Homo sapiens: one gene and its partners. The protein of the gene in region 2 purifies or fractionates together with the protein of the main gene of each other region. This does not show direct contact. Each region holds a gene or a part of one and is shown on either strand. Other genes may lie near its edges.

Region 1 (3,652 bases), on a different chromosome or scaffold from region 2:
CTGCTCTGGATAACCATGCAAAACCCCTTAGAGACAGGGTCTCACTCTGTCACCCAGGCTGGAATACAAAGGTGCGATCACAACTCACTGCAGCCTCGACCTCCTGGGCTCAAGCAATCCACCCACCTCAGCCTTCCAGTGTTAGGATTACTAGCCTGAGCCACCGCACCCAGTCAACTTTTCTAACAGCTCAAGTCACTCTAATTTAAATGCATGAGGAGAATATCTAGGTATTTAAAGTTCGCCACGTATTTTCACCTGAGTGATGCTTCCCTTCCTAAGGCTGACCAAGACCAGTTCATCCTTTTAAACTCAAAATAAAATGACACCAGTGAAGGCGGGAGGAGCACCCTATCAGGGTGAAGGCGGGAGGAAAACCTCATTCGAATGAAGGTAGGAGGAGCACCCATCACAAAGCCTTGCCTATCTGAGGTTCTTGTCCGTGAGGCTGAAGTCCAGGCTCTCGTAGTAGAGGAGCTCCTCCTAGAAGATCTGAAGCAGTCAAAGGAACCAAACCGACACAGGCCGTCTGCCTGCTGATCACAGTCTCTTTTAAGACACTTTCTACTTTGCATTCTGATGAACCTAGGAGTTTTGTTAAACAGATTATGCGTGTATTTATCCCTCATTTCATGCAATAACCAAAAAGAGTTATCAGGAAACCCTGTTTGTCTTTTCACCCCATGTATGAACTCTCATGTGAATGAGTCCTGCAGTAATCCATGTTAAGGGAGCCCTAATTTCAAACTGGTGCAAATGGAAAAGACTTTCCCTTTTCCTTTAAGACTAAAGACAAAATGTCCTCCTGGCCGGGCTCGGTGGCTCACGCCTCTAATCCTAGCACTTTGGGAGGCAGAGGCAGATGGATCACGAGGTCAGGAAATCAAGACCATCCTGGCTAACATGGTGAAACCCCGTCTCTACTAAAAATACAAAAAATTAGCAGGTGTGGTGGTGGGCGCCTGTGGTCCCAGCTACTCAGGAGGCTGAGGCAGGAGAATGGCGTGAACCCGGGAGGTGGAGCTTGTAGTGAGCCGAGATCGTGCCACTGCGCTCCAGCCTAGGTGACAGAGCAAGACTCCGTCTCAAAAAAAAAATGTCATTCTATACAGGTGCAACTCAATCCGTTAATAAAAACTGATGTATGCTGGAGAGAGGAAGTGAAAAGAAAAAATAGGGCTGGGTGCGGTGGTTCACGCCTGTAATCTCAGCACTCTGGGAGGCCAAGGCAGGCAGATCACCTGAAGTCACGAGTTTGAGACCATCCTGGACAACATGGTGAAACCCCATCTCTACAAAAAAAATACAAAAATTAGCCAGACACCGTGGCACACACCTGTAGTCCCAGCTACTCGGGAGGCTGAGGAACGAGGATCGCTTGAACCTGGGAGGTGGAGGCTGCAGTGAGCCGAGATTATGCCATTGCACTCCAGCCTGGGCAACAGAGCGAGGCTTCATCTCAGGAAAAAAAAGAAGAACAGAAAAGAAAAAATAACAATAAATCAATGTAAGGCCAGGCATGGTGGCTCACGCCTGTAATCTCAGCACTTTGGGAGGCCGAGGCAGGCAGATTGCTTGACCCCATCTCACCAAAAAATAAAAACATTAGCAGGGCATGGTGGCACATGCCTGTGGTCCCAGCTACTCAAGAGGCTGAGGTGGGGGAGTCGCTTGAGCCCAGGAGGTCGAGGCTGTAGTGAGCCATAACCATGCCACTGCACCCGTCTGAGCAGAAGAGCAGGACTCTGTTCAGGAGATTCTCCTGCCTCAGCCTCCTGAATAGCTGGGATTACAGGCGCGCACCACCACGCCTGGCTAATTTTTATATTTTTAGTACAGATGGGTTTTCACCATGTTAGCCAGGCTGGTCTCGAACTCCTGACCTCGTGATCTACCCACCTCGGCCTCCCAAAGTGCTGGCATTACAGGTGTGAGCCACACACCCAGCCCTGCCTGTTTTTCAAAGTGTTTATTTACCGCTGTTATTATTTAATCATAGTATATCAAACTTACAAAAAAACAGATTATAACCTTAAAACTATCTCTTTTAGCCTGGCGCAGTGGCTCACGCCTGTAATCCCAGCACTTTGGGAGTTCGAGGCGGGTGGATCACCTGAGGTCAGCAGTTCAAGACCAGCCTGGCCAACATGGTGAAACCCCGTCTCTACTAAAAATACAAAAATCGGCCGGGTGTGGTGGCAGGTGCCTGTAATCCTAGCTACTCAGGAGGCTGAGGCAGGAGAATCACTTGAACCCAGGAGGTGGAGGTTGCAGTGAGCCAAGATCACCGCACTGCACTGCAGCCTGGGCAACAAAGCAAGACTCCACCTCAAAAAAAAGGGGGGAAAAAAAAGAACTATCTTTTTTACTTGAAATTTTAATTTTTTAAACCACTAGAATTATAAAAGCAGTCCGTCCCTGAAGGCAGATTCTGTTCTGTCCACAGGGAATAAGGAAGATCCTCTTTCTCTAAAATCTCTAAAACGCTGCTCAGATGGGGTCTCATCTCCCTTCCAGCGTGACTGGCTGGCCTGAAGCATAACATCCTCAGATGCTCTAGGTGGGTCCTACACCGGAGCCATTGGTTAGTGCACACCATAACCAACTAGACTCAGCATCCCCGCCCACGGCTGCACATCAAGAAGCTTCACCATGGGCCAGGCACAGTGGCTCGTGCCTGTATTCCCAGCTGAGGCTGGGAGGAGGCTGAGGCGGGAAGATCGCTTGAGTCCAAGAGTTTGAGGCTACTGTAAGCCATGATCACGCCACTGCACTCCAACGTGGGCAACAGAACAAGACCCTGTCTCTAAACATAAAATAAAAAATAAGAAGCTTCACCCTCATCTACACAGAATTCAAATGCACAGCTGAGGCCTCCTACATGCACCCAGGGGTAGTGCCCAGGGCCTAAGAACAGGGCTGCCAGATCAGCTGCCTCTCAGACCACAGCAAGGCAGTAAACCCGGTTTCAGGCAGCAGTCAGTACTGTATTGAGAGCCTGCCCCTCACAACCACCCCAGAGGTGGGTCCAGCACCATGGTGCCAACAGGCCAGGCGCACTGGGAGCTCCTCCACTGGTGGCAAGGTGGCCTGAAGCACCAGCATCTCCTGGAGACTGGGAAACCCAGACTGCAGAGACCGCGGCCAGGAACACTCGTCCAGGTTTGTTTCTCTCTCTCTACTCGAAGCTGAAATAATAGTTTATTCCCAAGTTAGGAAAAGAACAGAACCACACAGTACGCGGTTTAGCTCCAATACATGCTTTCAAATATTTAGGTCGAGTTTTCTTCTCAATCAGCCCTGGCCACTTCAGCCCCCATGTCCTGCATGCAAACACTGCCTCCTTCAGTCCTGCCTACCCAACATCAGGAGCCAAAGAACAGAGAGCGTGCGGCCCGGCCAGGCCCGGCCTCTCCCAGAGCAGGTCATCATCTGGTACTGGCCAGGGAAGGGAGCACTTCAGACTTTTGGCTCTTCATTTTGTTAGATCACATTTTGTTTATTTTGCTTCAATTTCAGTAAAGCTGAAATTTTTAGACCTCTTATACAGAAGCTCTTAATACAAACCCTAGACTTTTTGACTCATAGGTAGAAATCCAAGCAAAACCATCTCTTCAAAGTCAGATTAATTTACAAAGACAAACACCTTGGT
Region 2 (3,652 bases):
AATAGTGATGATGATAATAATAGTTTTTCATGGGCATGTTAGAATTAAATGAATTAATATTTATAAAATGCTTAGGACAGTGTTGGCAATAATAGTAATAGTAGGTGCTATATGTGAGTGTCTTAAATTTTTAAAAGTGAGCCAAATCTATTAGTTCTCTTTCAAATTCTGGTAGCAGAGAAAAAAAAACACAAGCCATTTATAGATTTACATTTAATTAGAAAATTCTCTAGGATAAACACAGGGCTTAACTTACCTTTGAAGCCCTGCAGTATCTCATTTAGTAGATACCTGATAAATATACCATGAGTTATATTGAATTATCATGTGGAGTGGCTCTCAACTGGAGAGCAAATTTGGTAATTTGCAGACATTTTTGGTTGTCACGCTGGGGGTGTGTGTGCGGGTGCTACTGGCATCTAGTGGGTAGAGGCCAGGGATGCTGGTAAACATCTTAAATTGCCCCTACAACAAAGGACAGCCCCCTAACAACAAACAACTATCCAGTCCAAAATGTCAACAGTGCCAAGTTTGTGAAACTCTAATTTGGTGTTTTCCTGAACAAAATTCACTCTTTCTTCAGCCTAAAGTCTCATAAATATGTCAGTAAAATATGGATGGGCCAATTTAGGCTCAACAGTGAATAAAAAGTAAACCAAATGAGAGTTTATTTCAAATGTAAAGTTCATAGAGCATATACCCGAGGCCTCCCAAATCCCCTGGATGTGCCTGTCAGAATTTACACAGAGCCCAATGTCTGGGGCCATAAAGAGATCAGAAGATAAGCAAGGACACAGAAGCCCACACTATTATGAGCTGACTGACCATTATTAAACCAGAAGTGGGACCTCCATTTCTACACAGACCGAGGCCTATATACTAGTCACAGCTGGTCACCTTACCCTCTCCAGGTCCTGGCGTAGATGCATAAACATTCTCATTCGAGTGTGAATGCTTTCCTCTTTTGGCTGCACCAGCCCATTTTCTTCATCCTCCTTTGGAGGAAATAATGGCTTATTGAAGTTACTTTTCCGCTTCAGTTTCCAGTAGTTATAGATAAAGTCCACAGCTAGCGTGGGCATACCCAGCTCTGCGGCCACATCTTCCACTCGTACCAAGGAATAGAACTCCTCCTCCAGCTCCCGAAGCTTCTGTGCCCGCAGGCTGGTTTTCTCACTTTTGGCCTGGCTCTGCTCTTTAGCCCTGTGGTGGGGGTACTCAGCTTCTCCAAGTTTCTGCCTGTTTTGGCTATGCTTGAGGCAATATGACTTGAACTTCACTTCGTCTCCCTCATCTAGGATGGTCTTCATCTCTAGGCCGTGCTCAAAGGCACAGGTGACGTGGAAGGCAGTGATGCAGCTTTTTATAGAGCACTGTAGGAAGAAAATAGGTGTCAAGGTAGCAGAGTTGGAGGAAAAGGGAGAGACCTATGTTTCTGGACCTAAATTGATAGCTTGTAGGAAGCAAAAGAAAGACCGGGAGAAAGTTAGTCCTAAACTGACCATAACAGATGCTTTACAAGTAACCCAAGAAACCTGTTCTTACAGAAAACAGCAAACACAGAGGCCAAAAATAATTCAAACACTCCTTTTGAGGTTTCAGCTCAAGCATTCAAGCATCAAGTTTTCTGAGATGCTTTCCTGGGCTCCTGTAAACAGTCATGTAGTCTCTTCTCTGTGTCTCCCACATCACCCTATGAATGCTTTTAAAATGGTACTTTTCACACTGTACCTATAACAATTGTCAAGTCCTTAGGGATAGATCTTAAAAACAGAAGCTGTGTCTTTCATTTTGCATCGTCATTAACTATTGAAGAAGCAGTTGCTCAGAAAATGTTTCTAAACAAACAAAAGAAAACACACAAAGTGAGTATTATTGCTAGAGCATCCACTGGTTCTAAAAAAGTCATAGGAATTCCAATATCTAAGTAACCTAACTTCTTGAATTTTTTTTTTAAACATAAAAATTTTAGGCCAGAGCACAGTGGCTTACGCCTGTGATCCCAGCACTTTGGGAGGCCAAGGCAGGTGGATCACTTGAGGCCAGGAGTTCGAGACCAGCTTGGGCAACATGGCGAAACCCTGTCTCTACTAAAAATACAAAAGCTTTCTGGGCATGGTGGTGCATGTCTGTAGTCCCAGCTACTTGGGAGGCTGAGGCATGAGAATTGCCTGAACCCGGGAGGTCCAAGCTGCAGTGAGCCGAGATCACACCAATGTACTCCAGCCTGGGCAACAGAGTGAGAACCTATCTCAAAAAGAATTTTTTAAAATATTTAAAAATAGAGAATCTATGTTGCTCAGGCTGGTCTTGAACTCCTGGGCTCAAGTGATCCACCAGCCTCAGCCTCCTAAAGCGTTGGGATTACAGGTGTGAGCCACCATGCCCCGTGAAATTGTTGTTATAGAACTGAGCTGTCCAACTTGGTGGCCAAGTAGCCATGAGTGGCTATTTCATTTTTTAAAAAAATTTTTTTAGACGGTGTCTCACTTTGTCACCCAGGCTGGAGTGCAGTGGTGCAATCTCGGCTCACTGCAACCTCTGCCTCCCAGGTTCAAGCAATTCTCCTGCCTCAGCCTCCCGAGTAGCTGGGATTACAGGCATGTGCCACCATGCCCGGCTAATTTTTGTATTTTTAGTAGAGATGGGGTTTCACTATGTTGGTCAGGCTGGTCTCAAACTCCTGACCTCAAGTGATTTGACTGCCTTAGCCTCCCAAAGTGCTGGGATTACAGGTGTGAGCCACTGCGCTTAGCCTTAAATTTAATTAAAATTATGTATAATTAAAAAATTTAGTTTCTCAGTCACAGTAGCCACATTTTAACTACACTAGACAGCACAGACATAAAACATTTCCATCACTGTGGAAAGTTTTTTTTTTTTTTTTTTTTTTTTTTGAGACAGAGTCTCACTCTGTTGCTGAGGCTGGAGGGCAGTGGCACAATCTCGGCTCATTGCAACCTCCACCTCCAGGGTTCAAGTGATTCTCCTGCCTCAGCCTCCCAAGTAGCTGGGACTACACGTGCCTGCCACCACACCTGGCTAATTTTTTTGTATTTTTGGTAGAGACAGGGTTTCACTATGTTGGCCAGCCTGGTCTCGAATGCTTGGCCTCAGGTGATCCGCCCGCCTCAGCATGCCAAAGTGCTGGGATTACAGGTGTGAGCCACTGTGCCTGGCCCACTGTGGAAAGTTCTATTGAACAATATGGTTACAGACAATCTGAAATTAAGTTTATAATATTCTGCCATTCAGTCATAGATTTAACACATTTATTAAGCATTACTATGCAGTATGTACTGACTATTCATAGGGGGGGGCAAAGGGGGAAGGACCTGGCCCATGACTACTATACTCCTGTGCTTCAGTTAGCCTTAATTACTATTTGTTATGGTTACAATGTTACAGCTTTCCTTCCAAAGACTGACTGATTGATTGAGACTGGGTCTCACTCTGTTGCCCAGGCTGGAGTGCAGTGGCGCGATTTTGGCTCGCTGCAACCTCTGCCTCCCAGGCTCAAGTGATCCTCCCACCTTAGCCTTGTGAGTAGCTGGGATTATAGGCGTGCGCCACCAAGTCCTGCTAATTTTTGTATTTTAGTAGAGACGGGGTTTCACCAATTAGCCAGGCTGGTCTCAAACTCCTGACCTCA
Region 3 (3,652 bases), on a different chromosome or scaffold from region 2:
GAAGGGTTATTACATCTTCCTGATGCTAAGTCCAACTCTCCCATTAACTAAAGATTCTGATAAAGGCTTAGAAAGGATTGGGCAAAAAAGAACAGTTGCCTAATAGTAAGATATTTTCTGCAGAGGCAAATTAATAGAGGTTCTGAGTTGAAGGGAAAACACATTTAAAAATCAAGATGGATATACTTGATACAACTTTTTAGAGATTGCCAAACGTTCCTTTTCTTGCTTAGTGGGTTGTGTTCATTTTTCAGCCTTTTTACTGAAGGGTCTGTCACTGCTACTGCTATATATCTGAAGACAATAAACCACAGTAAGTGAGTTCTGTAAAACATACCATCAGCATCATCTGACTCTTCATCTTCTTCTTCATCTTTAGACTTCCTCTTAGAAGAGGACTGACACCTGAGTACATCCTGCGAAGACAAACGACGGAAGTATTCTCTAGGGAAAAGTTCATTTTCATCCTCTTCCTCCTCTTCTTCATCGATCTCAAACGTGGGTTCTAATCTTGGCATTGGCCTCTCGGAGTCAGAATCTTCAAAAGGTTCATCTAACACTTCAGTGGTCTCAGAAATAGTTTCTGTGACTACACTGCTATTGTGGTGTTTGCGCTTTCGGACTCTCCTCCTTCGGTGGAGAAATGGTTTCTGTTTAATAGAGAAAGCAAGTATTTACAGTTATGAACACTATCTTTTCTATTAATAATACGAAAACAGTTTTAAAACCAAATAGAATTAGCACATATAAAATGAGGATGTTGTTTGCCAAAAAATATTTTGAATATTATTTCAAAATACTATAGTAAGATAATACACTTATTATAAATACAAAGGTATTAGGCAATTGAACACAACTTTGTAAAAGAATAGGCAGCCATCTCCAAATAGCAGACATTATAATTCTCTTAATAGTTCAGTTAAATTTAGCACCCTAGAGAGTTGCCCTGTTTTAATACTGAACTGACCCAGAGGCTAATCCCTTAACTTTTCCAACTTAAGAGCAAAAGAGAAATAAAAACACTTTGTCTTATAGCACTACTGTGAAGGTTTGCAGAACTATCAGTAAAGTTGTATGCCATTTTCATGAACTACTCATAAAAAGCTGTGGAATGTAGAAATATGGGGCTGAAATGTATTTACTCAGTGTTAGTGAAATATTTCAAAAGTAAAATAAATCTGTTACTGAAATTTGGGCACACTGAGCACAACTTTGCACTGGACTGACCAAATAGCTAAAATTATACAACTAATATCACAAAATAAGAGATGATGCCCCAGAGATTATCTAATCCAATCCCTTCATTCTATAGATGTCAGAGAGGGTATAGGACTTGCTTAAGTTCACACATCCAGTCAAAGCATTTATTCATTAACTTCAAAATTACTTTGCATGTGAGCTTACTGCCTGTTCTTTTTCTTTTTTTAACATGATTTGTTTTACTTCATAAATTGGCAATACAAGTGCTAGGATGACAAAGATCTATTCTTCATGATCATGCAATGAACAGCAGTTAGTCAATGTTCAATTTTTCTCTACTTCAAACTTAATAGTCCCAATCGAGAATGTAATTTTCAAATTAGATTAAAAATGGCCCTGGTCCTTGGAGAAAAGGCTGATTCTAGGACAAGGGCATGAAATATACAAGATGAACTTGAAGCATCTTGTAGTGCCAGAAAGGAAATGCTTAAAAACAAACAAAAAGACCCCACAATGACAACAACAGTATATATGTTAAACACAGGAGGCCAGGCGCGGTGGCTCACACCTGTAATCCCAGCACCTTGGAGGCCAAGGCAGGTGGACCGCCCAAGCTCAGGAGTTCAAGACCAGCCTGAGCAACATAGCGAAACCCTGTCTCTATCAAAAGTACAAAAAATTAGCCAGGCGTGATGGAACATGCCTGTAGTCCAAGTTATTCAAGAGGCTGAGGTGGGAGCGTTGCTTGCATCCCAGGAGGTGGAGGTTGCAGTGAGCTGAGATCATGCCGCTGCACTCCAGCCTAGGTGACAGAGTAAGACCCCATCTGGGGAAGGAAAAAAAAAAAAAAAAAAAAAAAGCAGCAGCAGCCCAAGAGGGAAACTAAAAGAAGGAGCTTCTAATGGTCAAAACTGGAACAATCTGAGCAACAAATTTTAAAAAGCAGTAGTATTGGATTATAAAGTGAAGTATCACGTAAATATCTGGGCCAATAATGATATAAATAAATGCTTGGATAAATAAACAGATGAGGGAGAAAGGACAAATCTCCCAAGCAGAAATTCAAATAATTTATGCTGAGCCTCCACTCTGAGGGGGTAGAAATCTTAAGTGTGGCTATGCACAGTGACTTCCTTCCAGTAAAGGGAAAAGAAAAGTAGAAACCTGACAAACAATATCTTAAGCCAGGTCATCAAAGTTAACTTCAATAGGGAAAAATCAAATTGATAATACCCTTATATTTGATACTTGCTTCTTTTTATTTTTACAGACGGAGTCTTGCTATGTCACGCAGGTTGGACTACAGTGGCTATTTACAGGTACAATCATTGTGCACTACAGCCTCCAGCTCAAGTGATCCTCCCGCCTCAGCCTCCCAAGTAGCTAGGATTACAAGAGTGACCACTATGCCCAGCTTCCCTATACATACTGATAGATATATGCCAACAGGTACCCTTTAATTATGTGATGAGAATGGCACTTTACCTCTATGGTCTTCCTCTCAAGAATATATTACCCCATTCTAATATCATGAGGGATCATCTACAAAATACCTGACCAGTCATTCTCAAAACTATGAAGGCCATCGAAACTAAGGAAATTCTGAGAAACTACCACAGCCAAGAGGAACCTAAAGACACATGACTACTAAATGTAATGCGATATGCTGGGTGGGATCCTGGAACAGAAAAAGGACGTTAGGGAAAACTATGGAAATCTGAATAAAGTATGAACTCTAGTTACTGATGTATCTACACTGGTTCAGTAACTGTGATAGATGTACCACACCAACGCAAGGGATTAATAATAGAGGAAACTGGCTGGGGTATGCGAGAACTCTCTGTACTTTCTTTGCATTAATTCTGTAAATGTAAAACTGCTCTGAAGATATTATTCTTAAAACAAAACAAAACAAAACAAAAGATCCTGTCTTGCTTTTTAAGACCCTGTAAGGAAAGGAACGATTGTGCTGCTTTGGCTGGAAGCTGGCTGAGTGGCTCTTCCAGGGAGCAGCCTCGCTTCAGTCTGGCTGCCTCCTGGCAATGCTTAAAATCCACTCCATAGCCTGGGATGTTTCTGGTAAACGGCTTAACAGAATTCATTATCATCATTGTACATTATTTAATAACTAATTGGCTATCATTATGATGGAATATAGTTTAGAAAATATTTTTAAAGCAAGAGAGACCACGTTAAACCACTGGAGGGATGTGTGAGAAGTGGGGAGAGTAGAGAGAAAACAATAGCACCCAAGATGAGCTACTGTACTCTGAGTACCCCAAAATATAGGGCAGCACTATGTTCACTTTCCAATTAATTATGTAATATTTTGGCCTCCTTTTCTAATATAAACACTTCTAATCTGTACATACTTTAAAAATATCTTTTAAAGATATTTTAGGGCTTTAAGCCCCTAAAAGTCATGATTTGAACATCAAACCAGTAAGCTAAA

What was found.
Region 1: the proteins of JADE3 (region 2) and BRD1 purify together in Homo sapiens (affinity purification with mass spectrometry, with the first as the bait; one large-scale study listed by BioGRID). This does not show direct contact.
Region 3: the proteins of JADE3 (region 2) and KAT6A purify together in Homo sapiens (affinity purification with mass spectrometry, with the first as the bait; one large-scale study listed by BioGRID). This does not show direct contact.

What each region holds. Positions count from the first base shown.
Region 1 is NC_000022.11:49,817,799-49,821,450, forward strand, and holds part of BRD1 (bromodomain-containing protein 1), read right to left. Parts: intron 3,189-3,652; exon of another isoform or gene 3,036-3,188; intron 586-3,035; coding exon of another isoform or gene 424-585; intron 1-423. UniProt on the Homo sapiens protein: Scaffold subunit of various histone acetyltransferase (HAT) complexes, such as the MOZ/MORF and HBO1 complexes, that acts as a regulator of hematopoiesis.
Region 2 is NC_000023.11:47,051,879-47,055,530, reverse strand, and holds part of JADE3 (protein Jade-3), read right to left. Parts: intron 1,374-3,652; coding exon 903-1,373; intron 1-902. UniProt on the Homo sapiens protein: Scaffold subunit of some HBO1 complexes, which have a histone H4 acetyltransferase activity.
Region 3 is NC_000008.11:41,936,919-41,940,570, forward strand, and holds part of KAT6A (histone acetyltransferase KAT6A), read right to left. Parts: intron 651-3,652; coding exon 338-650; intron 1-337. UniProt on the Homo sapiens protein: Histone acetyltransferase that acetylates lysine residues in histone H3 and histone H4 (in vitro). Component of the MOZ/MORF complex which has a histone H3 acetyltransferase activity. May act as a transcriptional coactivator for RUNX1 and RUNX2.